Linked DNA regions of Homo sapiens. The protein of the gene in region 3 interacts with the protein of the main gene of each other region in a biochemical or structural test. Each region holds a gene or a part of one and is shown on either strand. Other genes may lie near its edges. The genes, in order: SYNJ2BP, RBP1, LRP2 and LRP2BP.

Region 1 (6,121 bases), on a different chromosome or scaffold from region 3:
CCTAATGCAGTGCCTGGTACCATGGGAAGTAGAGACAGTAAGGTGTTATAGTTATGAATGCAGGTTTTGAAGCCAGATTGCCTGGGTTTAAATCACAGCTTTGGCACTTAGTAGCTGTATAACTTGGGCAAGTTACTTAACCTCTCTATGCCTTTTATCTATAAAATGAAGATAACAACAGCAGTTATCTTAAGAGTTGTTTTGAGGCTTAAATAAATATTATACATGCAAAGGCCTTAGAACAAAAGCTGGAATATTGATAAGAGCTCCATAATTGTTAACAGGATATCAATGTCCTGTTCCTTATCTCCTATGTCAAAGCCTCAAACTGATCATTTAGATTTCTTCCTCTTTCCACAATTCTGTCAGAGGTGTTACCCTAAGAATATCTAGTACATAGTAAGCACTTATCAGATATTTGCTGAATGAAGGAAAAAACCCTCATCTGGAAGAAAAAAAAATGAGATATTTAATCAACGGTCTTCAAAATAAGGTGAAAAAAGATTGTAAAGATTCAATGACAAAGTTTTATTAAATACCAATACTGGCTAGGCACAATTAGACACATTATTATCTCATTTGCTGTATCTGGTATCAAACAACAAAGCCTGAAAGATTACCATAGATTTTGATGGCCTCATTAACATAATTAATCCGTAGTGACATTCCCTGGATAATAAATACAGTTTTATGTCCGTGTGTCTTCTGTGTCTTCCAAGTTGCTACAGGGCTCTATTTGATCTGAGAAACTGACTGCTGTTTACATCCAGGTATGCAATGTGACATTAGAATTGAAGCAGAAAGGAAGCAAAACAAAACAGGGTTCATGAGGAAAATAATCTTCTAAGAACTAACATGGCCTGGAGGTAAAATGCAAATATATCCGGTAATAAGAAGCCCAGATTACTGCAGATAAAAGATTAAAATAGGATTCAATTATTCATCTCCATTTGCAAATCTACAAACTAGGAGGAAGGACTAACCCTTTTCCTGGGATTAGTAACTAAATTTAATGATTACAGCAAATATAAAGTTCTTTTGTAAATTATTGTTGGTTAAGGATTGACTTGCATTGACAACACACTTTAGCTCTCGCCCCTTTCATTCTCCCCCTGCAAGAACAAAGGCAAAATGAACAGTGAGGAAAACCTGGAAACAGGACCGAGTGTTTGCTATCACTTGATTCCTTTGAAGGAGCAATGCTTTCTCATAATATAGGTTTTATAGTATCATCAAGTACATCAGTTAAGCAAATCAAGTGCTTTGTGTTCTGTATATAAATTACATAATACAAGAGTCTGTGGCAGTTAAGAATCTGGTTCTGCACTTTGGGAGGCCGAGATGGGTGGATCACGAGGTCAGGAATTCAAGACCAGCCTGGCCAAGATGCTGAAACCCCGTGTCTACTAAAAATACAAAAATTAGCCAGGCGTTGTGGCACACACCTGTAATCCCAACTACTGGGGAGGCTGAGGCAGGAGAATCGCTTGAACCCGGGCGGCAGAGATTGCAGTGAGCTGAGATCGTGCCACTGCACTCCAGCCTAGGCGACAGAGCAAGACTCCGTCTCAAAAAAAAAAAAAAAAAAAAAAAAAAGAAAAGAAAAGAATCTGGTTCTGATCAGAATCCTTAAAATACTGTCTTCTTTTTTATCACAATTGCCCTTTTGGATGTGAGTGCTGGTCTCAAAAAGATTTGCAGTTAAAAGAGGAACAGCAAAAAAGACTTACACCAAAATAGCAACCAACTCTAAAACTATTACAGGTGAGAGGTAGACAGCTTCATAACTCAATCTTCTACTACCAGGTGATGTTAAAAAAATACTTTAACATCAAAATCACCTACAAATATTCCTCCACTTTCATATGCTGAGCAATTTCAGCTTAGAGTGACTAAGTGTTATTTATCTCTCTATCTTCGGCACCTAGCACATAGTAGGCAGTCATTAGTTATTTGCTGAATGAAGGAAAAAAACCTTCATCTGACCAACGATAAATTTCACTAAAATTGACTATAATAAAATCTGTATGGGCTCCACATGAAAACTACATGAACTTCACTTCCCCACATACCTGACAGCCTATACACTTCCTTATGTTTCATTTCTTTAAATATACTTTAAAAATTGCTTATTTACACAATAAAAACAATGTCCACCATAAAAAAAAAAGTCTCTAGAACTATTGGAATTAGTCTCAGAATAACTCATCTGATTGGATTTGATATGAGATCATTCTCAGATTGTTCTGTGGAATCTCCCAATTCCAATAATGATGCTTGCAATATCCTTTAGCTGTCTATCAGTTCTGGTCTTTATTCAGGCCCAAAGAGAGAAGAAAGAAGTAGACTAAGATAAAATGGGTAGTCTGTGTATTCATGTAGTGAATATATTCAAGACATAAATATGAGACAGAAAGGTCACTTCTGCAACAAACTAAGTCTGATCAGAGTTAAGTTAGCTTCCCTCTCTGAGCCTTTATTTTTCTCATCTCTAAGACAGATTCATCCTAGAAGCTCTCTGGTCCTTTTTAGCTTCAATGTTCTATGATTGGTTCTCATTTAATTGATGCACCAACTGAAACACTCACTAATCATACATTTTGCTGGAGGTTGATCAATCCTTAGCAAATCAGGAAGAAATGAATGTTCCACTTACTTCGTGCAGAAGCTCAGGAAGCTGGGCTCTAAAGGCCCAAGTTTTTGTTGTTGTTGTTGTTGTTGTTGTTTTGCCTGAAGCAATGTATGTAATTTAATAATTTAAATAGTGTTTAATTAAATAGTGTCTTGTTTAAATGCTATATAACATTTTCAACTGCGGCTGCACACCAGAATCACTCAATGAACTTTATTTTACTGCTGCTTGAGTCCCACCCTCAGAGGTTCCTTTTAATTGATCTGTGTGCAGCCTGGGCATGGGGACGTTTATAAGCTCTCCAGATGATTCTAACCTGAGCAAAGGGAATGATGACTGGCATAGAGCAATGAGTCTCAAACTTTAGCATGAATCAGTCACCTGGAAGGATTACAAAAACACAGATTGTGAGATGCCACGCTCAGAGTTTTTGATTCACTAGGTCTGGAACTTCTTTTTTCTCTTCTGGGAACTTGCTTTTTGTTTTTTGTTTGTTTGTTTTTTTGTTTTTGAGACAAGGTCTCACTCCGTTGCTCAGGCTAGAATGAAGTGGAGCAATCACGGCTCACTGCACCTCAGTCTCCTGGGCTCAAGCAATCCTCCCGTGTAGCTGGGCCTACAGGAATGCACCACTAATTTGTTTGACTTTTAGTAAAGACAGGGTTTCACCACATTGTGCAGGCTGGTCTCAAAACTCCTGAGCTCAAGTGACCCACCTGCCTAGGCCTCCTAGAGTGCTGGGATTACAGGCATGAGCCACCATGCCCAGCCTATGAACTTGCTTTTCTAACAAGTTCCCCAGTAACGCTGATGCTTTTGTCAGGACCTTGCTTTGAGAACCACTTCCAGTGAGAGAATATCATTGATGCTGGCATCTGAAGTCCTGAGTTTAAATCCTGATTCTATTATTACCACCTACATAATCCTAGTCAAGTAATTTTTTCTCTCATTTTTAGTCTCTTTGTGACAATACTTAGATCCCAGAGTTATGAGACATGAAATAATGTACCAATCAGAGTTTGGTACAGTCCCTGGCATAGAACACAATAACAAATATTAACTTCCTTTTTCCATTATACATGGCTAGATGGAACAATTAAGTTAAATCGATAACACATAAGTTGAAACTTCACAGGAAAACAAAGTACAGCTAGTTGAAGCAAACAATATCTTATAATTATACATGTAATACAGAATGATAGAGAAATGTTTTAAGTACTTAAAAATACCTTCGTTCAATTTTCAAAACTTTGAACGTAATAATTTAGGTAGTAGGAACATTAGATGCAATCTATAGAAGAAATATTAGACTCAATCTATGAAGAACATGAATTTTTTTACAACCTATAATGGATCCTGATACCTCATCTATAATTTTAGTTTTCTATAGAATCAATAATATAATTAGTGTACCTGCTTAAAACTGTATTACATTGATCTTCAATGCTACTTAATTTCTGAGAAAACCTAAGTTATAAGAGTACATCAGAATCTCTATTATCAACCAAAGCAAAACTTCTACCAACGACAGAATGGATACTTTTTAAACAAATTTACATATACCAACAAGCAAAAAACTAGAGCTTTCATTCCTGCTTGACATTTTTTTCACTTTGTGTGTCTCAAGGCTCTCTCAGGAATCAGTGTCCAAACCATGAGGTGAATCCTGGGAGGTAAGCAAGCTTGCTGTAGAAGCCGCTGTACATGCCTTCAGGAACAGAAAGGGTACCAGAGGCTGTGCCCTCCTAGTGTGGCTGGTTGGAGTGACAACTAGAATGTTGTCCGTGTTTTTCTGTGGAACCTACAATGAGTCCAGTTGTCTAAGTGAGTCTCAAAGGTATTGAATAGTTGATGTCAAAAGGCACTTTATGTCAGGACTGTTTAAAGCAAGTTTCTCCCTATACCAGTAGTGACCCAGAGGCAAGGTCTTACCGGACCTCTTATTTTCAAAAGCCTTCCCTTTCCAATTGAGCCTGATGCCATTATGTGACATCTTTTTTTCCCTGAATTTCTAAAAGAAAATGTGATGATTACCTGCATATCTTCTTTGTTGCTGCATCGTGTTTTGCATGGTACCCCTTTAATATTGTTTTCAATACTTAGCCTGCTGATATACTTTTAACTTCTCACCTGTTTATGAATTCTCTTAACTAGGCTGTGAGGCCCTTAAGGGTCTTCAACTTGTCCCTTTCCTCCACGTAACTTTCTCAAACGCCCCAGTTCTCAGTAACTTTTCTCTTTTGCTGTCTGTAATATAAACATGACCCCTACTTACACTGTCCTACCTATGTGGCCAATAAGAGTGTTGTCTTCGCAGTTGGAACCCAAAAGCCCTATGGGATGGAGGATATGCACTGTACTTCTTTGTAAAAGTGTCTTGACAAAGCTGATGTCCAATCAACATTTAATTACCAGACTGTCCAAGCTAGAAATGAAATACAGTTGATTGCCTGAGTCCTGATAATCTTGCTAACAAAATTATAAAAGGCCTATAGTATGGCCAATATATTTGGCTAATGGAAATGATTTTCTTAAAGCCAGAAAATTCAGCTACCCATAGTGCTTAAAACCAGCCTTAAAAGAACATGAACAGGATGGTTCCCACCTTATCGAGATCACTGGCATTCCATAGTATCCATTCATTCATATCCTCCTCCTAGGCCGCATGAAACACCTACCACATTTCCCTACCTCCTAAAGCAAACAAAACTCTTTTCCTCCCTCTTGCTGCAAAAAGGTTTATTAAAAGCCGTATGTAGTGTATAAAGCCTTTCAAAAATACTAGCAATCCATGCCTTTCTTTTTTTGAGATGGAGTCTTGCTCTGTAGCCCAGGCTGGAGTGCAGTGGCGTGATCTTGGCTCACTGCAACCTCCGTCTCCCAGGTCCTGGTTCAAACAGTTCTCCTGCCTCAGCCTCCTGAGTAGCTGGAATTACAGGAACGCGCCACCATGTCCAGGTAATTTTTGTATTTTCAGTAGACATGGGGTTTCACCATGTTGGCCAGGCTGGTCTTGAACTCCTGACCTTGTGATCTGCCTGCCTCGGCCTCCCAAAGTGCTGAGATGACAGGTGTGAGCCGCTGCACCCGGCCTCATTTTAACTAAATCTGAAGCCAGAGTTGATTTGATGCCCATCCTGCCAGGGAGGCAGTTCCTTCCCTCAGGTTTGTTAGTAGAAACCAAAAAGTAGCCTGAGAGGGTTCAGGTGCCACCTTGGAGGCACTACCTTATCTTTTGTCCTTTTAGAGTTTTCTTGCTGGGGTGTTTGGCTCCAGCACTATAGCCCTTACCACAATCATTCCACCTGGTTCTTCAATAGGACTCTGAGGTATCAAAAAAGTCACTAGGGCAGCCCAGAGATTGGTACGATTTACCTTTACACCTCAAAGTTTTTTAGATGTGAGCAGCGCTGGATTATGGCAATTTACCTTATAATAACTCACCATAGTTGGCTGTTATAAGAATAAATATTGTTCTTCTAAGATTTT
Region 2 (7,293 bases), on a different chromosome or scaffold from region 3:
CTTTTCTTTGCCACACTGTGTTGCGAGTGTTGGTGTGCCTGCCTCCACTGCAAAGACTTTGCTTTCCTGGACATCAGGGCCTGTGACATGCTCTGCTGTCCTGTGCCTGCCGTGGTGACCAGCCCGTGAGGGAAGCAGTATGTTCAGGGCAGTGGTTAACTAAAATCCTCCCTCTGCACTTCCCCAAGGTCACACAGCAAGAAATCCTGCAGTGGTTTTCTTATCTGTAAAATGAGGCTTGAAAGGGTGTTGTGAAGATTAAGTCAGCTAATGTAACGTTTGAATAGCATCTGGCATGACAGTAAGCACTTGATGAGTACTGCATTTGCTAGTATTACTAGGTGATCAATAAATGTTTCATGTGTTAATGGATGAAGAAAGGAAGGAAAGAGTGAAGATAATTAGTACAAGCCAGCACATGCCAGATTTGTGGTGACCCAAAATAAAGGTTCGATGTGATCTGTGAGTTCCACAATAGTGAGTGGGGGTAAGGATTATTCTTAAGGAGCAAAGTTCCATGCAGTGTGCCGGGGAGCAGGTCTTGGGCAGTAATGAGAAAGGCAGATGCCATCTGAAGGTCTCCTTTCCTATTGTGAGTCTTTCCTGCAGATTAAGAGTCCTTGAGATTTTTAAAGGCACAACCTGACATTTCTCTGCAACAATGGTGTTTTCTCCCATTAGTGGTCCTTCCAAGGCCACTCCCTGCTGACTACCCCCTCTTTCCCATCATTCCAAACAGCAGACTCAGATACCAATCCTGACTGCCTTCAGATGAATAGACAAGGTGGGGGGATGAGTCATCCAGGCTCCAGATGCCTATTCCCAGACATGGGCATCCCTTCAACTACAATCCTAACAGACCTCAGCTATCTTGTTTCTGCACAGACTACCAGCAGAGAAGCTGGCAGAAAGCAGGACTGTGGGCTTCAACATCAGAAGGCCCAGGGCTCAAGTCTCATCTCTTACAAGTCTCTTCCTCTGTCTGAGCCTCAGTCACTGCATAACATGGGGTTACTTATCCCTCCCTCACTGTGCTGTGCTGTAAGATGACTAGCACAGTGCTGGACACACAGCAGACCAGCGGTAAAGACCCTTGGTAAATGGTGGGAGGTGGTGGGTGAGGACCCCATCAATAAGCAAGGTGGCTCCTGGGATGAACATAAGCCACTTCTGAACCCAAGACTATAAAGGGAGAACAAGAGTACCTTGACCTCCCAGCAACCAGATAATGTTGATGGAGGCCTGGGGCTGGCCTTCCGGCATCTGCTGTGGCAGTACTAATTGGGATGTCCTGGGTCAGGAGTTTCCCACCCTTGTGGAAGGGAGCTCTTGGCCCTCCCTCTTCCCCCACTGCTGTTTCCTCTGGTCTGGGCTGGAGGGGCCCTGACTTACTGAATAGGTGTCAGCTGCAAAGTTCAAAGAATGCTCAGTAGGCATTGGATGACAGGGTGGGGCAGGGGATGGCCAGGAGCCAAATCCCAGCTCTGGGGCAAGGATGGGCAGATCAGGGGGCTTCCAGCAGAGATCAAGGGGCCCCCAGCTTCCTGGAGTGACTTCACACTAAGTCATACTGAAAGTTTACACTTCAAAGGGGTTACCTGTGTTTCTTTTTTCTTTCCTCCTTTCTTTTCTTTTACCCTCCACCAGCCCAGTCAGCCAGAGAACGGCATCAACAGACATGCTTTGAACTCCAGACCCTCCCTAGCTGTGCTACTCTGGACATGTTACTTCATCTCTTTGAGACTGTTTCTTCATCTGTAAAATGGGCATATTCATATCTCCCTCAAAGGCTGTGTGAGGCTTAGGTGAAGTCATGTGCATAAAGCACCGGGCAGAGTGCCTGAACGCAGTGGAGACACAGCACATGGCAGCCTTCATAACCATCACCTTCCAGTGTAGATAGAGCAGGATGCTTCATGAGTTGGTGCTGCCCACCATGGGGGCTGAGAGTGGGAAGAGTTTTCAGTCCCTCAGGCCCTTGCCCCCTCTCGGATGAACTAGCCCAGCCCTTGGTCAGGCCCCCTGGGCAGGAGACACCAGGTGGACGCGAATCCTCACCATGCACTTGCGGTCATCTATGCCTGTCAGATCCTCCTCAAACTCCTTCCCAACCTGGAAGTCCATGATGTAGTTCCTAAAAGTGCTCAGCGTGCGGATGATCATATGGTCACCGTCCTGCACGATCTCTTTGTCTGGCTTCAGCAAGTTGGCGATTTTGCGCAAGGCCACATTGACGTCTGCGGTGGGGGTTGAACGGGGAGAGAGAGAGCGCCAGAGAGTTGGCAGGGAAACTCAGAGAACCGTTCCCAAGGTAGCGGGGCCCCAGGAGCCCTCTCCGCCCGCGAACACTGTTAGGGTTCCCGCTGGCTTTGCGTTGTCTCTGCGCACAGCCTGCCTGTGCCTCCCCTGCCGCCCCCAACAAAGTTTTCTGCTCTTATGTTAACCGTTTAAAAACAAAAAGTAGCAAACCAAGCCCCAGATTTACTAATGAAATTACCCACCTCCAGGGCCAACGAGCAGACATTTGCCACCGGTTAACCTAACAACCCCGAATTCTCCAATCTGCAGCCTGGGGGCTGCCCTGGGAGCGGTGGCCGAGGACGCCCTTTCTGGCGTCCGGGGGCACCGGACCGCGGCTCGCCGGGATGGAGGCAGGCAGGCAGCGTCTCGGGAGGGCTCTAGGGAGCGGCCCGGAGCTGCTCGGCGGGGCGCCCAGGGCGCAGCGGGCAGCGCTTACCGAGGGCGCGCAGGTACTCCTCGAAATTCTCGTTGACCAACATCTTCCAGTACCCAGTGAAGTCGACTGGCATTTCGGGGAGTGACTGGAGCCAGTTGGCCACAAGCGGGCGGGACGGCTGGAGACTGCCGGGACAGCGGCTGCCGGTGCTACGCGGGTGGTGGGCGGCCCGGAAATGAGCGCCCTCCGGGGACAGGGGGCTCTGCGGGGCGGCGACAGCTGGATTCCCAGCGCGCACAAAGCCTGCGGGAGGATCCATTGTAGCGGTCGCTCCTCCCCGCTTAGCGAGGGCGGGCGCAGGGGCGGGGGATGTCGAAGGGTCAGGTTTGTCCAGGCCGCGCCACCTTCGTTTCAGACGTTCAGTTCGTTTCCCCTACAAAGGAAGAGGAGACCGGAGACGGGACGTTTGCTTTGTTGGCCGAACTCTTCGGCTGCTGGGGATTTCCTTCAAACGCCATTAACTTCTCACACTCAGCAGCCACTCGGGAGTTGGGAAACAATCTCCTGGGGTTTGTGCTGGCGTGATTAAGGAAAGAGGCCACTTACAGGCCTTTGTCTAAAGCCTCGCGCCGGTGGTGGCTGGGGTCAGGAAAGCTGGGAGGTTCAACTACGGGCGAGAAAATTGGGGCACTTTCCACGTCTCTCCCGAAAATAAAAGAAAGGATGCCGGGCACGGCGGCTCACGCCTGTAATCCCAGCACTTTGGGAGGCCGAGGCGGGCGGATCACCTGAGGTCAGGAATTCGACACCAGCCTGGGCAACACGGTAAAACCTCGTCTCTACTAAAAATACAAAAAATTAGCCGGGCGTGGTCGCGGGCGCCTGTAGTCCCAACTACTCGGGAGGCTGAGGCAGGAGAATAGCTTGAACCCGGGAGGAGGAGGTTGTAGTGAGCCGAGATCGTGCCACTACACTCCAGCCTGGGCGACAGAGTGAGACTCTGGCTCAATAAATAAATAAATAAATAAGTAAAATAGTTGATGTTATTTGAAGTGCATGTGGCTAAAAAAGCCTTCTGGGTGATTCTGATGCACAATCAACTTTGAGATCCACTGCTGCTTTATGCAAATGTAAGCAATATACTGTTTATTAATGTTTCCTCCCGTTTCACCTAATGGCAGCACTGTACTCCACGGTGTTCTGGACTTTGCTTTATTCACTTAATATATTCTGGAGACTTTTCCATAGCTGTACATAGAAAGTATCCCCATTATTTTACGGAGTATTCCATTGCTTATCCAGCTTGTCCCCTGATGGACAAACTATATTGTTTCTGATCTTTCACTATTAAAAGCAGTACTGCAATGAAAATCTTTGATCACATCTCCTTTGTCACCTGCGTGGGTATGTCATTGTGGTTTAACTGCATTTGCCACCAAGTAGATGACATAATCACATGGGCTGACTTTTTGACCCTCTTTTTGACTACCTCTTTTAAATCGCTTTTTGCACAAATCACAGCCTAAGTGACAGCAGATAACATTTTCTTCCCCTCTAGCACCACCTTCCCCAGGGTGCCTCCCTGGGGCTCACATGTGTTCTCACAGTGCAGGCTGAATTAGGAAAAGGAGCCTCTTCCTCAGGGTAGAGACAGCTTCCTCCCAGGCAGCAACTTGGATTTCAGCGCTTCTCACCCTCTTTCCCTAGACTAGGATTTGTTTCTTAATCTCTGTGCTACTGACATTCTAGGCCACATAAGTCTTTGTTACAGGAGCCTGTCCTGTGTACTGTAGGATATTTAGTGGCATCCCTGGCCTCTACCCATTAGATCCCAGTGGCACCCAGACACAAAGATGTCGCCAGACATTGTCAAAGGCACTGGGGTGTGGGTGCTGGGTAAACCAGCCCTGGTTGAGAGCCAGCTCTAGGCCCTTGTTTCCCACTGCTTCTTTGTCTGGCTCTGGATGGTTAGGTCATCAGTTGTTCACACAAGCACTGGCTCTGTGTCCCTCCCTAGCCAGCCCAGGGCTCATCTTGGCTGGGCACTCAGGGCAACCTATCCCAGTCCTTCCAACCTGAAGGTGCAATAAGACACCTCGCAAGGATGGATGGGGCCTGGCCCAGGTTCTGTAAGGCATCCCACCAGGGCCAGCCATGCTTTGGGCTTTCTTGTTATCCTGACTTACCAGAATGGAGCATTGGTCAAAGGCTTAAGCAGTGAACTGGCCATTCCTTGGTCACTTCCAACTAGTCTAAACTCTTCTCCCTGCTCTCTGATGCCTCCAGCCCAGCTAGCCGGATTTCTCATCCTCCCCAAACTTCTCCCTTTATGCTGAATCACCTGAGATGGTTTATGCCAAATGCTCAGCACAGTGCCTGGCACACAGCAGAGGCCAGTCTGTTCTGACTCCCTGCCATGCTTGGAATGGCCCTTTCGTGCTCGAGGCAGAGGCCTGCCCACCTCTCCAGTCCTTCTTGTCCATCCCAAAGAACCACAAGCTTGCCACTCCTCCCTCTTCTGACCACGTTGGATAACTTCTGCTCACCTGATCTCACTTTTCTGACCTGGTCAGCTGAACATATAGCACTTAATTCAGCTAGTTTCACTCAGTTTCTGTCTGTCCACCTCTTTGTCTAGTCTTCCAAATGGGTCAGTACGCTCCTGCCCTTCTGGGTCTCCTCCCAGGCACAGCCCCTGGTGGCTGTGCTATTTCTTGCAGCAAAGGGTAGGCTGCATGTGTAGGCTTTAGAGGCAGAATGCCTGTTCTTGCTAGCTGGGTCACTGTCTACCAGAGTGATTTGGGGTAAGATACTTGATCTCTTTGTGGCTTAGTCACCACATCTGTGAAATGGGGACACTCTGACTACCTCTCAGGGTGCTGAGAAGCAAAGGATGAGGAATCTACAGGGCGTGGCACTGAGTACTGTTCCAGATCCACTGCTGTTTGAGCCAGAGGGGCCCTAGAAGGGAGGGAAAAGACAAGGGAGAGCCTGGGTGCTGGTTTGTGCCCCTCTTCTGGGGCTTTAAGATCAGTCTAATGAGTTGAAATGGGAAATGCTCTTCAGAAGCATCAGCTACCATCAAAGTTATCCTTCCTCAGCCCATGCTGTTGTGCTTGATTTAATCCATTTGGTTCTCGATTTGGAAACAAAAAGTATTTTTTGGAGCTCCTTTCTGTCTGGGTTAATCTTCCTTGGAATGTGTGAAGCAAAGAAAGAGTAACTGAACACAGTATGTAAAGAAGAAGGAGGGTGTCTGTGTGGGCTTGCAATCAGTGAGGGCTCCCTGGACGGGGTGAGGCTCTAGCTGGAGCTTGAGGACAGCCAGGATCAGAGAGATGAGGAGGAGGAAGGATAGTCCAGGTGACCAAGGAGACAGGTGAGCAATGGAGTGCCAGAGTGCCAAAGCAACGGCCAACTTGTAAATGACTGAGAGAAAGAGATGTCAGTATACTCAGGCACCTCTAATGGGGTTCGCTTTATTCAATAGCTTTAAAGAAGAGCAGCAGAGATCTACAACCAATTCTTGGGGGCTCAAATTGCTCCCAAGGCCACAAAGAAGAGCCAGACCAGTGGGAAACCACCCTGGCCTGTGTATAGAGTGAGTTAGACAGGCACAAAGAACAATTTTATGTTGGGGAGGAGAGGAGACAGCCAAGGATCTCCAGCGTGAGCTCCTGAGTGAGGGAAGCTCAGGGACACTGCAGGCCCTTCCTGTGAGGATAGGAAGGAAATATGCCTTTTCATTTTTCAGCTGATCAGTCAACTCCACAGGAACAAACCAGAGCTCAGAAAAATATGTCCATGGGCCGGGCATGGTGGGTCACCCCTGTAATCCCAGCACTTTGGGAGGCCGAGGTGGGCAGATCACTTGAGTTCAGGAGTTTGAGACCAGCCTGGCCAATATGATGAAACCCCGTCTTTACTAAAAATACAAAAATTAGGCAGGTGTGGTGGCACACACCTGTAGTTCCAGCTACTTGGGAGGCTGGACAGGATAATTGCTTGAACCTGGGAAGCTGAGATTGTGGTGAGCCGAGATTGTGCCATTGCACTCCAGCCTGGGTATCACAGTGAAACTCCATCTCAAAAAAGAAAAAGAAAAAAGAAAAATAGGTCCATGAAATGATGCCTCAATCGCCTGCCTTGTGAGGCGGGCAGTACTATGCCTGTATCACTGCAGATCAAGCAGCTTGCCAGGGTCCCCAGTTGTTGGGGTGGCAGAGCTTCCCAAAGGCAATGGGGTTGGAGGAGAGCCCTGAAACAGACCCTGAGGTTCTGTCCCCAGCCCCCAGAAGATATTTCTCTCAAGATCCTGGGGTAGGGGGTGACTTGCAGTCTCATCCCACCCTGTCTGCCAGGTCTGCCCCATGCCAAGAGATTCACTCCTAGCAGGGGAAAGGTGGCCTGATACTTCTACAACTTATAAGAAAATATTTCTCATCTGGCTTCCCTGTCTCTCAGACCATGTCCCTGCTTTTCTTCTCAAGGGCTCATTGTTATCTTGGAGACTTCTAAAATCTTCCTTTTTCCTGTGTTCAAATATGTCTCCGGAGTTATGCGATGGAGAATGACCCTGCTCAAATCTCCGAGCCATTACCATGCCATCTATGAGG
Region 3 (7,029 bases):
ATGAAGTAAAATCCAATGAGATTGTAACAGCCTTTATTTAAGCACTACCTTTTAGGTAGGCTACCATTGCAAACTTCGCATCACTAAAAATTGGAGGGGAAAAAAAAGAGCTCTGAGTATTCTATGTTTAGTCTTTGAAAAAAATTATACCACATCTGTTGTTAAAAATTATTTGCATTTTCCTTATCTTTTGTGTAATGCTTTTCAAGAAAAAACATTTTGCAGAGTCTGAACTCGAGTCAAGCTGTTGGGTTCCAACATTGGCTTTACCACTTTCTAGCTGTGTGACCTTGGGAAAGTCAACCAACTTTGCATAGCTCAGATGGCTTATCTGCAAAATTGACAAGATAATAAGAGAATTTACCCAATGACATCTTGTAAGCATAAAGAGATAAAATATGCCAAGTGCTTAGCATGGTGTAAAGCATATAGACAGTGAAAATAAACTAGAAAATAATCTAAAAATACAATATTTTTATTATATTTATCAACCCTTAAAGTAACATATTGTTTTGCTTCCTATTCCTATTTCCATTTCCAATTTTCAAATATACAAAGGAAAGTCTTCTTTAAGCATTTTTCACTAACAGTTCTCTGAAGACTTCTCAGACCCTAGCATGTGATTGGAAGATTTTTTCTTTTTTTTTTTTTTTTTTGAGAAAATCGTATTGGCCTTAAACAAAGTTGTATTCTGTTTACTAATTAAAAAAACTTATTTTTCAAAAATAGAAATGGGGTCTCACTGTGTTGCCCAGGCTGGTCTTGAACTCTTGGCCTCAAATGATCCTCCTACCTCTGCTTCCCAAAGTGCTGACATTATAGGCAGGAGCCACCTTACCTGGTCCAACATTATATTCTTTAATCCAATAAAAATGTGGTAATGTTTTTAAGAGTTAGTATCAGCTTTTATGACAATTACATCTTCACATGAAGTTTATATGTTTAAAAGGATTGTGGGGGCAATAGCAAACTTGTATCGTTTTTATTCCATCACAACTCTGGAACCTCACTGCTGCTTTAATTTCACAGTTGTTGGCTTCTCTTTCTCTACTTGAAAAAGTTTCTCTTTACCAGTCTTCATAAGACTTCTGCCTGAACTCCCTTCAGTCATGCACCTGTCTCATTTTAATAGAAACTCAGACTTTTTACAGCTAGAGGGAACCTTAGATATCAACTGGTCTGCTTGCATTTTTTTTTTCTTACAGATAAGCAATTAGCCCAGGAGGGAGAAGAAAGGGGCTGAGAGGATGAAAGGGAAGGCGGTTAATAGGTTTCTTGCCTAAGGACATCTAGCCTGTGACAGAGCTAAGATATAAATTTGCAGTGGACCATTTTTTAGATTCATGCCTTCTGAATGTCCCCAGCCTGTTTGGTTGGTTGAGATTTCTAGATTCCTTTTGGAATCCTGACTTGCCAGATAAGGCACAGTCTGATAAGCAGATGAATCTTAAAAACAATTGGATGGGTTACCTGTCCCTGGCCAAAGAGGAATCCTGTGATAGGTTATTACAACCATGTACCATGCGCTTTCAGCTTGGTCCAGAACTGATGCCATGTCAGTGCCCCTACTCCCAAAGACCATACCTCCAGATCCATTTTTCAAATTCTTGAGCCATCAAAGCGCATTCCTGAAGATCTTTGGGTTTTGTAGTGCAGGCTGCTGTAAGACTAGGTTTTCAGTCTTACTAAAGGTAATTATTAGGTCATAATCATTGTTCATGTTCTCTAGTCAGGCACTGTAAGAACACTGAAAGGTTTTTAAAATATTTAAATTAAAATTTTAAATTATCATTTAAAAATAATGATACCAGGAACCTAGATGTATTTCCTGTGTAATCAGAAGCAAGTGCATTGTCATATTGGCTTTGGAGTTTCTGTTAAGTCCTAGTAGCTAGAACAAGGTAAGTAGAAAGTAGAAGGTGCTGAGCTGGGCGTGGGGGCTCATGCCTGTAATCCCAGCACTTTGGGATGCTGAGGCGGGAGGATCATGAGGTCAGGAGATCGAGACCTGCCTGGCCAACATGGTGAAACCCTGTTTCTATTTAAAACACAAAAATTAGCTGGGCGTGGTGACGCACACCTGTAATCCCAGCTACTCGGGAGGCTGAGGCAGGAGAACTGCTTGAACACAGGAGGCAGGGATTGCAGTGAGCTGAGATTGTGCCACTGCACTCCAGCCTGGGTGACAGAGCAAGAATCTGTCTCAAAAATAAAATAAAATAAAATAAAATAAAATAAAATAAAATAAAATAAAATAAAATAAAAATAAATAAAAAAGAAAAAAAAAAGAAAAGAAAGTAGAAGGTGCTTATGAAAGAGTGTTGAATGGATAGGAAAGGGGTTCTCAAGGTTGACTGCACGAATCTAGAGCAACTAAAAAAATACTAATTGTGAAGCCCTATTCTAGCATGGAAAAAATAAGCTTGATGGAACCTTTGGTATAAATCAAATGGTTCTATCGTATCCTATTAACTTTATAGTCTTGAGTAATTAAAAATTTTTACCACTATTGTGTATTCTGTGAATGTTTATTTTATTTTTTCCATGAATATTTATTAAATATCAACAGTGTGCTGATGAGTCAATAGTATCAATACTACAGAAACATTAAGGAAGATGAGAACTGAAAAGAGGTGTCTACATATCTCGCAATTAAAATGGACTGCAGTTTTGCATTTAAGATTCTGAAATAGTCATTGACTCATTCCTAATAACCCTGCCCAGGATCTCACCAGCATTAGAAAGATTGGAGATGTTTCAGCATCCGAGTTCTGGGATGCTTCTTGATAATGATCAGCTAGTAGTTGTTTTGAAATGTCAAGAGCATTTCTGTGGTTCTTCACATGTTCCTAATGCAAATGTTTCCGAAGTAATTTCTTGACAGTTACAGTGTTTTGAGATGAAGTGGGAAGGGCTTGTGATTTTGAAGTTGGAGGATCTTGGTTTGATTCCTACCTCTGCCATTTATTATCTGGGAAATCCAGTACCACACATGCTGGGTGCTCTGGGGCAGTTTTCTTATCTGTAAAATGGACATATATCTACCTCACGGGGTGGTTATGCAAAGGCAATGAATGTGAAATGTTTAATAAACTGTGAAGTCTCATATAGATTTCCATTCATCATTATTACCCAATACGAGAATTTTACTTTTTCCAAACTTGAGAGGAGGAAGATGTTGCAGTATTTTGGTATCTTCTTTACCGTGGGTCTGAGAATGATGCACCTGTGCATGTTGTTACATCCTTACAGTGGCTACCACAACTTCACATGTTATTCAGTACTGTTATGTTGGTGAATGTCACAAAACTAAGTTAAACTGTCTGAGGCAAAAAAGGAAGGTTATTGAAATACATAGTTGAGGCTGGGTGTGGTGGCTCATGCCTATAAATCTCAGCACTTTGGGAGTCTGAGGTGAGCGGATTGCTTGAGCCTAGGAGTTTGAGACCAGCCTGGGCAACATAGTGAGACTCCATCTCTACAAAAAATACAAAAAATTAGCCAGGAATGGTGGTGTGCCCTTGTGGTCCCAGCTACTTGGGAGGCTGAGGTGAGATGATCGCTTGAGCCCAGGAGGTCGAGGCTACAGTGAGCTGTGATCATGCCACTGCACTCCAGCCTCAGCGACAGAGTGAGACCCTGTCTCAAAGAAAATAAATACATAGTTGAAAAGATACAGATAATTAGGTTGATCCATTTGAGATTGATTTTTTTTCCTATGCAGAAATAGTCAAATATTGGCAATTTCATTTGGTTCAACCTAATATAAAATGGAGGCTCAAACTATGTCAGGCCAATCTTGTCTTTTTTCCGTCTCCTGGCTCTGAGATGACTCCATTCTTAAACATGTTCTCCTTTGATGTAAAGCGGCTGTCAGTGGCTCTGGAGCCACCTCCTATCAGATCACATCCACTGGGAAAGAAAAAGAGTTTTTATCTTAGCTATTCCCAGCAAAAGTTTCAGTTGCATCTCAGGGTCTCTACTTAGGTCATAAACTCATTGGAGAACCAACCACTGAATCCCGGGTCATGATGTGTTCCCATGGCTTAGGCTTGGGCTGTATACTCAGTCTTTGAGATCATGTATGAAGGGGTGGAGTCCAGAGAGAAATGGGGGTAATTATTGGGAGAATGGTGAACAGAGGCTGGGATGCAAAAATAACAGGTGTTCAGTATACCTTATCAGATAAAATTGACTGACGATGTTATTTTCATTTTGTATGTGAAGACACACTTGAAAAAGCTACAGAAATTTCTCAAGAGCTGGCAGCCCTGGGGTAACTTACAGAATTGAAAGGAATAAAGTATTGGAAACATTAAGAAAAAAGACATGGTGATCTGTGCCCATGTGACCATGTTGCAACTTTAAGTTTAGAAGGAGAACAGGAGAAAGAAGGACTTTTAGAAGGTTTATTTGGATCCTAAAGTTTTCTTATTTGGAGCAGAGCTTTGTGATAGACAGGAAAGTTCTGGAAAATGAGCTGAGCGATCAGACTACAGGATCCCTTAAGTCTGGTGCAGTATTTCATTTTTCTGTGAATCTTAGGCTCCTACTCCTTTTCCAATTTACTTCACTCCAATGTTTATGTTCCTAAGAGTTTGTCTGTTTTCCAAGCACTAGTCCTTTGCTATAAGGATGGGGTAGAGAGAAAGAAGCTTAAAGAGTTTGCAGACAGGTTAAGATGCTTCTGTGGAGACAGAACACATCTTGGTGCACATCTGAGTGTCCTTAGCACTTCATCTATGGACTTCTTTCATAAATGGTAGAACACGTATCCATCACACCTTATTGGATTAATTCAGAAATGCCAGATATATGTACTCTTTGCTGATGGTTACTTTGTTGGTCTCTAATTTAAGTCTTATCTCTAATCACATTAGCTGAGAAAATGGAGACATTATCATTCTAAAAATAAGATGGTTAACTTTTATATTAGGACACTTCTGATTTAGGATAGCACTGAAATTCAGTGCAAAGAAATGTAAGTCTTTCCTAGATAATGACAGATTAGACAATTTGAAGTTTCACTTTTGGTCATTAGCCCTCAGGTCATGCCTGACCTCAAGGTTACTGGAAACAGTGAGAAATGAATGAAAGGAGGAAATGTAATTACCATTCTGTGCATTGAATAGTTGAGCCACTGTTACCATGGATACAATGGCGCATTTATTGTCCAGATCTTGAGATCCAAGTTTGTAAGCAATATCCAAGGTCTCCTTTAAATTTATGTACTATCAGCGAATAACACATGAAGATTCCTGGTAACTTTGAAAATAAGTCTTTCCTCACTGATCTACTGATTCACATTAAGTAAGAGCATGTGTACTTTTGAAGGTGTTGAGGAAACCTGAAAAAGACGAAAAGGAAAGTAGCTACACTTCTGTTATGCTGGACATTCTTGGATTCCTCTATAAAAATATTCTGTCTTATACTGTCAGTGATTTGCTTGTCACTTTGGGCCCAGTTCTTTGGTTTTTATGTCATTAACAAGGAGAAAATTTCCTGAGTAAAGGTTGAAAAAATCAAAATCGTTTATTTTTATTTTTTGAGACAAGGTCTTACTTTATCACCCAGGCCAGAGAGGGTCTCACTTTATCACTCAGGCTGGAGTGCATGGCTCCCTGCAGCCTCAACTTCCCAGGCTGAAGAGATCCTCTCCGCTTAACCCCACAAGAAGCTGGGACTACAGACACATACCAGCACTCACAGTTAATTTTTATATTTTTTGTAGAGATGAGGTTTCTCCATGTTGTTCAGGCTGGCCTCAAACCCCTGAGCTCAAGTGATCCTCCCGCCTCAGCTTCCCAAAGTGCTGGGATTATAGGCGCTAGCCACCATGCCCGGCTGAAATCATTTATTTTGTCAGGAAATTCTTAAAGTTGAATTTAAGAATGAAAGTATTTTATCAGAAATATGGCAATCCTACCCACATTTTAATCTCACTAGAAGGGGGGTGATACATGCTAGCATGTACTTCCACACTGGTTTAATTTTGATGTGGGGAAGGGTGTGGAGAATACTTTTTGTTGCAAGAAACAGAAAACCCAACTCAAAATGGCCTACACAATAAAGGGTATTTCTTGGCTTATGTGAGTAAAAAATACTGAGGCAGAGTGGGGTTCAGGCGAGGTGCAGTCAGGGCTCCAGTTCTCTTTCTTTGTGTTTTCCTTGACCCTACTCCCCCCTAAGTTTCACCTTTGTGTGCGGTCTGGCTTCCCATATGATTCTGATATGGCTGCCAGGGCAAATGGGGCTACGTGTTTCCTTGATCCTATCCAGGGGGAATCCAACTTTGAGAAGGTTTTAGTTATGTTCTCAAAAGTATTATTTCATCACAATAACTTACAGATTGTTAGAATTTCTAAGGACCCTAGACAAAGTCAGCTAGCTCCCCAAACTTGACATATCATCAAAATCACCTGAGGAACTTAAAAAAGTATAGAGATTCTTAAATCAAAACTCACCCTTACTAAAGCAGGGGTATGAAAATCTGTGTTTTTTAAAAATTTTATTTTATTTTACTTTCAGTTCTGGGATACATATGCAGAATGTGCAGGTTTGTTACATAGGTATACATGTGCCATGGTGGTTTGCTGTACCTATCAACCTTTCATCTAGGTTTTAAGGCTCACATGCATTAGGTATTTGTCCTAATGCTCTCCCTTCCCTTGGCCCCCACCCCCTGACAGGCCCCGGTGTGTGATGTTCCCCTCTCTGTGTGTGATGTTCCCCCCCCTGTGACCATGTGTTCTCATTGTTCATCTCCCACTTATGAGTGAGAACATGCGGTGTTTGGTTTTCTGTTCCTATGTTAGTTTGCTGAGAATGATGGCTTCCAGCGTCATTCATGTCCCTGCAAATGACATGAACTCATTCCTTTTTATGGCTGCATATTATTCCATGGTGCATATGTGCCACAACCAACCCAAATGCCCATCAGTGATAGACTAGATAAAGAAAATGTGGAAAATCTGTATTTTTAAAAGTTTCAAGGTGATTCTGAGGGCTGGACCAATTTTTGGGAACGTG
Region 4 (7,029 bases), on a different chromosome or scaffold from region 3:
GGTCTCTCTATTTCTTCTCTTGACCACCAATCAGGAACCTTTGCTGGAAGCTTGTTTCTGATTGGTGAAAGTAAGCCATAACAGTGGAATGCCAAGGAGTAAATACAAAAGTGTAGCAACAACTGAGTTTGCTGTCTCACTACCCTCAGCCTAGGCCAACCTGGACTCCTTCACCCCAAATGAGGTGACCGCTACATTTTATATGAAGACACTGATTTACCATTCAACTGTGATCCATCTTATAACATGGCAATCCAATACAGACAGGAAGATAAAACTCAACAACAGCTAAAATAAAGTGTATTCCCAGGTAAAATAGACAAGTGCTTTAATTTGAAATGGATTCGTCCGATGAGTGTCAGTTACAAGGGCAGAGAAGGTACCAGTGCAGAAGAGCTCTGACTGTGGGCAGTGTCACCAGGTCCCACTAAGTGGCAACACTTGTGCTGGGTGACTTGACCCATCTTGATGTATAAACCCATAGCCAGACAGGACGTGCAAACAGGTCTCATGGTGAATGCGATGCTGTGGAAAATGACATGGAGAATGGCTGTCTCTCAGCTAGGGAGGAGGGTCTTGGTGTCCTAGTAAAGAATGTTCACGTCCTGGAGTTGGTGGTTGGTGTTCTATCTAGGCGATGAGAGAAGGATGCTTTTCCTAATGAGCACCTGGTGGGAATAGAGTCTCTCTTTGCACTTCGCTGGAGGAAGAAATTTCTACCACTTATTTTTTCTTCTTGCTTATAGAATACACATTGCAGAAAAAGGATGAAGTTGACCAGTGAAAAGTTGCCCAAGAACCCCTTTTATGCCTCTGTATCTCAGTATGCTGCTAAAAACCAAAAATTTTTCCAGTGGAAAAAGGAAAAGACTGGTACAAATCCTGATATTTAAGCTTCCCTTGGAAAACACTTTAACAGTTCATTTTGCATGCTAGAGCAAACGAGACAAGAAATAATGTGTTTTATTGATTTCAAGGAAGTGGTTAATCATTAGTCCTTTTGAGTTTTCCCGCAAGAATCTGTGAAATTGCTCATTTATCTGGTAGCAAATCGTCAGTGAGGTCTCACAGATAGTTAGGTCTTGATTTTACTCTCAGGACTTAAGGACATGCTTCTAGAAAACAGAAAGCAGATGTCACGTTTGTTAAAGAGAACAATGCCAGGCTTGACTTGCAATTATTATTTAAATACCTTATCTTCCCTAAAGTCTTAAAAATGTTATATTAGGGATGGGTTGCTCATTTGGTTAGAGGAACTCTCATTAAGGCTCAAATTAAGAATTTAACTCACCTCTCCAGAGAGCTTTGCCCATTGAAGACAAACCAATGCATAGACTTATACCCAGCCCTGCACTGTTAGGGCTCTACTTGGCCATGAGCAGGGTTAGTGTGAAACCAATCAACAAGTATTGTTTGTTGTTGTTGTTGTTGTTTTGAGATGGAGTTTCGCTCTTGTTGCCCAGGCTTGAGTGCAGTGATGCAATCTTGGCTCACCGCAGCCTCCGCCTCCTGGGGTCAAGCTATTCTCCTGCCTGAGTCTCCCGAGTAGCTGGGATTATAGGCATGCACCACCACGCCCTGCTAATTTTGCATTTTTAGTAGAGACGGGGTTTCTCCATGTTGGTCAGGCTAGTCTTGAACTCCCAAACTCAGGTGATCCACCCGCCTCGGCCTCCCAGAGTGCTGAGATTTACAGGCGTGAGCCACCGCGCCCGGCCAGTATTGCTTTATTACACAAGGCACAGTGTTAGGGCCTGTGACCATGACGTTTTTTCAGGTAATATTTCTTCCTTGAGCTAAGGAGGCCAGTTGTAGGAATGAGCACTAGAAAGCAAGAATGTCAACAGTGTTAGATGGATTTTATATGATTCATTACTTCAAGAGAGAAAATTCATATTGTGTGGTTGATGGAATTCCTTACCTTTTTAAAATCAGATTACACCCATGCTAATTTGGTGGATAAGGCATTGCAGCTCTTGAAGGAAAGAATACTGAAAGGAGACACTCTGGCATATTTCCTACGAGGTCAACTATATTTTGAAGAGGTATCATTTTTTGTTTATTCGTTTTCATTTCCTGTAATTCTGTTGTTAGATCCTCAGACAAAAATTTCATGTAGAGTTTCTTACTGTGTTATACTAGGGAAATTCTGTCCAATTACATCGACTATGGCTGTGGCTTTAACAGTAGGATACAGTGCTGCCAGCTTGAGGAGCTACCTGACTTTTCTTCATAAAATCCATGTCATGAAAGCCATTTATGGGAGTCGTTTTAGTATAAAATCCATTTCACACTATAGATTAAAAATCAAATTTTTATATTTTTGCTCAAAATATTTAATAATACAAATTATATTATCAGGCCGGGTGCGGTGGCTCACGCCTGTAATCCCAGTACTTCGGGAGGCCGAGGCAGGTGGATCACCTGAGGTCAGGAGTTGTAGACCAGCCTGGCCAACATGGCTACACCCCATCTGTACTAAAAATACAAAAAAAAAAAAAAAAAAAAAAGTAGCTGGGCATGGTGGCACACATCTGTAATCCCAGCTACTTGGGAGGCTGAGGCAGAGAATCGCTTGAACCCAGGAGGCAGAGGTTGCAGTGAGCTGAGATCGTGCCACTGCACTCCAGCCTGGGCCACAGAGCGAGACTCCCTCTCAAAAAAAAGTATGTTTGTATTACCAGGTATCTTCATATTAATAATAATTGAAGCCTTGATTTTTATCTAGTACTTAGGGGAAGCTTTAGTTGTTCCTGGATAGCATAGGAGGAAATCGCCCTCTTTCTCCACATCTTGTTGGGGTGGCCTGGGAAGTAGACTGAGGAATGGCTATGCCAGCTGTCCCCTCAACTTCAGTAATGTAGTTTCGGTTTTTCATTGACTTCCCCGGGAAGACTTGAAAAGGGACTGACTGTCTTTCACCATTTGTTGACTATTTGGGCAGCTGTTCACCTATATCCCACTTACTCTCTCACTTTTCGATGGCACCTTCGTCTATCCTGGCAACAAATGTTTGCTGAGGGCTCATCGTGCGCCTGTTACTCTGAGGATGGCAGAGCACCATGGCTGAGAGCATGCTTCCTCAGCGTGGGGCATGGGTTCAGATATGGCTGCATTGCTTGTTAACTGTGTGTTTAACTTGGGCACAAACACTTGACCACTTGGTGCCTTTGGGATTACTTTAAGATCATAATAAAAATAATTAAATATCTTCTGGGTGCTTCTAGGGATGGTATGAAGAAGCATTAGAACAGTTTGAAGAAATCAAGGAGAAAGACCATCAAGCAACTTACCAGCTAGGAGTGATGTACTATGATGGGCTGGGGACCACTCTAGACGCTGTAAGTTAATGTCTTGGTCACAGTGGTTAAGATTTCATTGTCAGTGGATTATTGGACACAATTAAAATTATTTATATTTTAATACATATATATATACATATATATATATATATATATATATATATTTTTTTTTTTTTTTTTTTTTTTTTTTTTTTTTGAGACGGAGTCTCGCTCTGTCGCCCAGGCTGGAGTGCAATGGCGCGACCTCGGCTCACTGCAACCTCTGCTTCCCGGGTTCGAGTGATTCTTCTGCCTCAGCCTTCACAGTAGCTGGGATTACAGGCACTGCCACCACGCCTGGCTAATTTTTGTAGTTTTAGTAGAGACAGGATTTCACCATGTTGGCCAGGCTCTACTAAAAATACAAAAATTAGCCAGGCATGGTGGTGCATGCTTGTATTCCCAGCTACCTGGGAGGCTGCAGTGAGCCAAGATCATGCCACTGCACTCCAGCCTGGGTGACAGAGCAAGACTCTGTCTCAAACAAACAAAAACCAAAATATATTTGATTGTCCAATATTATTTTCTTCTTTTGGGTGATGTTTGAAGGTTTGTGTCTGATGGATTTGGGGGTGGAGGGTACAGATCTGTTCTTGCTAGTGGTTAGAATATCTTCTATGCTTTCCTTGTGACCACGTAGCAGATGTCGTATTAGTGCATAAGATTTGTATATTAGATACAAACTATGAGCACACAGTAAAAGTATGCTTGAATGGAAGACGGTGTTTGTTAGGGGCTCGCAAGTGTATCGTAAGAATTATAAATGTGAAAGCTGTTCCTGGCCATTCTTCCACTTTAGCCAGTTCTAAGAACTGTGCTGATTCAGGATAAGGGTTATTAGATGGGAGGGAGGAGAGAAAAAAGGAAGCCCATATCGAGACTTAAATCAACTCAGGCAGCTGTAAAAGGAAGGAAATTTCTTATATCCCAGAGCTCCTGGGAGTGCCTGAGTAGGAGATGTACTTTTAGAGATTCTTTTCCTCCTTATCGCTTGCCCTGCAGAATCCAGGACAATTGTACCCCTTGGGCACAGATTCATAGTATTATACATCGTGTCAGAGGGCGGACACTTCACAGCCTTATTGGGAGAAAGAAATTCAGTTTGGGTAAAACTAAAAACTAGGGTTTTTTTGCTCTTTCTTTTGTCGAAGGAGAAAGGGGTGGACTATATGAAGAAAATTCTTGATTCTCCATGTCCCAAAGCAAGACACTTAAAATTTGCAGCTGCTTACAACCTCGGAAGAGCTTATTATGAAGGAAAAGGTGTTAAACGATCAAATGAGGAAGCTGAAAGGTAATCCTACCTGAGAACAAGATTAGGTTTGAAGGAAATGCTGAAACCGAGAATAACATGCCTCACTTTCTCTTGTAGACTGTGGCTTATCGCAGCAGACAATGGAAATCCCAAAGCTAGTGTGAAGGCTCAAAGTATGCTCGGGCTGTATTACTCAACCAAGGAGCCCAAGGAGTTAGAAAAGGTAACGTTCCCTCTTTTTTAATGCTAGTGTTATATTTAGATTAATATTTGTTTCACTGCTTTTTTTGAGAAAATGGTGGGGAATGTCGTTTTAAATATCTCTTATAGTTCCTTTAAATGTAAAGAAAGCATACATTTTAGGATCTCAAAGCCCTTTTATTTATAAATGTCCCCTTCCCTACCTCTACCGAAGGAAACCATGAATGTGAGAGTATTTTGTATACTATAGTATCAAAGCTAAAAGAAGAGAAACAGTCCTGAAATTACAGCCAAAATCCTTCTAAGCATGAACAGATGAATATTACCGTTGACTTGAGAAATTGATACTAATAAGTAAAATATACCAAGAATTAGTTACAAATAAAATCCATCTAAGATTTTCACAGAAATATAATCTCTTTCATCAATGGTTGAAACAGTTTCCAAAAAATCCTATAAGGAGAAGGAAATGGGGGCTGAGTCCTACTTGTGAGAGAGGAGTTAATGGCAAATTTGCAAGAGACACATAACAACTAAGGCCATCTTTGGATAGATAAGCAGCCATCTGGAATTTTTTAAATGAATTCAAATTCACTGTAGCAGAGTATGAGGCAAATGTGCTTGAGCCTACATACAGCGTTTATCCTGGGTTGTCTTTGATCGCAGCAGCTGCTATCTCTAGAATCCACCGGGAGCTCGAACTCTCCCTTAGCATCAGTGGTTTCCCCTCCTCTGCTGTGCCTCACGCCTTTCAGACACTGAGTTCCTATTTGGCATCTTCCTGATCCTTACTCTGAAGATCCCCAAATCCTGAAACCTAGGACAGCTGGTCTTCCTCTGCCATAAGCTGCCTGGACTGTGATCTCACCTGCACTGTGGACAGACAGCGGAGGAACTCGCCTCCACACTGTGTTAGGCATGTGTGCTAGTGTGAAATGCGTCCAAAGGCCTACCGCTCTTTCCTAGAGATGATTAATAGTGCTATCTAGGAAACACAGAGTTCTTTTCTGTCTAGTATTCCCTTATAATTTCATCTAGTGGATCACAAATACAATGATGAAACTGTGCTTTTCTTAGGCATTTTACTGGCATTCCGAAGCATGTGGCAATGGGAATCTGGAGTCCCAGGGTGCACTTGGGCTCATGTACTTGTATGGACAAGGCATCCGGCAGGATACGGAAGCTGCCCTGCAGTGCTTAAGAGAAGCAGCAGAACGCGGAAACGTCTATGCTCAAGGGAATCTCGTGGAGTATTACTATAAGATGAAATTTTTTACAAAGTGTGTTGCATTTTCCAAAAGGTGAATGTCTTTGTCTGTTCTGTGCTGCTGTAACAGAATATCACACACTAGGTAATTTATGAGAAACAGAAATTTATTTCTCACAGTTCCAGAGGCCAGGAGAGGGCTGCAACCTCCAGAGGGGAGGACCATCATGTCCTCACGTGACAGCAGAAAGCTACAGGAAACCTCTTTTATAAAAAGGGCTTTAGTCCTATTCATGAGGGAGGTGCTCTCATGGCCTCGTCGCCTCTTAAGAGCCCCACCTCTTGATACGATCACACTAGCAACACTGGGATTTCCAAGGGAACTTACTAGTCAAACCATAGCAGTAATGTTTGAATAAACTGGATGAAAGTATTGATAAGAATGCCTACTACATGTTCTATGCCAAATCCTTCACAGAGCTTTCTGCAGTATTAGAAATGATAGCTATTGAGCACTTGAAATGTGTCTAATGCAACTTAGCACTAAACTTTTAAATTTTACTTAATGTAAATATTCATATGGCTGGTGGTTACCATACTGGATAGCACAATTCTATGCCATTAGCCTTCAGGATTTCAGTGCTACTAGCTGAAGCAAGTTTTTTAAGCAGCAATTGCCTTATCTGTAAGAAGAGAATACCTTTATAGCAGGATTATAATCATGTACTTAACACAGCTTGGCATGTCACACATTTATTACGTCTTCATTTCTTCCTGCACTCCTCGGTCATGCAGTTCTATAACTGCACCACTGAAATACAGCTTCATAACAACTGTAACATGAGAATATGGTTAAAAGACTGACACTATATCTAATAAAATATAAAAGACGTCTTTTCTCGGAGTCCGTAAGGCTCCATGTACTTTCCTACACGTATTTACCCACAGTGTATAAAAGCAGTGGGTCGGGGAGACAGACCTGGGTGTACTCTAGAGTGGCCATCAGACTCTGCGTGTGCTGGTGT

What was found.
Region 1: the proteins of LRP2 (region 3) and SYNJ2BP form a complex in vitro, tested with the Homo sapiens proteins (one study listed by BioGRID).
Region 2: the proteins of LRP2 (region 3) and RBP1 form a complex in vitro, tested with the Homo sapiens proteins (one study listed by BioGRID).
Region 4: the proteins of LRP2 (region 3) and LRP2BP form a complex in vitro, tested with the Homo sapiens proteins (one study listed by BioGRID).

The regions. Positions count from the first base shown.
Region 1 is NC_000014.9:70,365,992-70,372,112, forward strand, and holds the end of SYNJ2BP (synaptojanin-2-binding protein), read right to left. Parts: 3' UTR 508-6,121; downstream 1-507. UniProt on the Homo sapiens protein: Regulates endocytosis of activin type 2 receptor kinases through the Ral/RALBP1-dependent pathway and may be involved in suppression of activin-induced signal transduction.
Region 2 is NC_000003.12:139,536,723-139,544,015, forward strand, and holds the start of RBP1 (retinol-binding protein 1), read right to left. Parts: upstream 3,021-7,293; 5' UTR 2,997-3,020; coding exon 2,738-2,996; intron 2,238-2,737; coding exon 2,059-2,237; intron 1-2,058. UniProt on the Homo sapiens protein: Cytoplasmic retinol-binding protein. Accepts retinol from the transport protein STRA6, and thereby contributes to retinol uptake, storage and retinoid homeostasis.
Region 3 is NC_000002.12:169,352,526-169,359,554, reverse strand, and holds part of LRP2 (low-density lipoprotein receptor-related protein 2 precursor), read left to right. Parts: intron 1-7,029. UniProt on the Homo sapiens protein: Multiligand endocytic receptor. Acts together with CUBN to mediate endocytosis of high-density lipoproteins. Mediates receptor-mediated uptake of polybasic drugs such as aprotinin, aminoglycosides and polymyxin B.
Region 4 is NC_000004.12:185,371,925-185,378,953, reverse strand, and holds part of LRP2BP (LRP2-binding protein), read left to right. Parts: exon of another isoform or gene 1-746; 5' UTR 747-767; coding exon 768-873; exon of another isoform or gene 874-1,115; intron 1,116-1,291; exon of another isoform or gene 1,292-1,824; intron 1,825-1,935; coding exon 1,936-2,045; intron 2,046-3,227; coding exon 3,228-3,341; intron 3,342-4,492; coding exon 4,493-4,635; intron 4,636-4,713; coding exon 4,714-4,819; intron 4,820-5,874; coding exon 5,875-6,098; coding exon of another isoform or gene 6,099-6,102; exon of another isoform or gene 6,103-6,444; intron 6,445-7,029. UniProt on the Homo sapiens protein: May act as an adapter that regulates LRP2 function.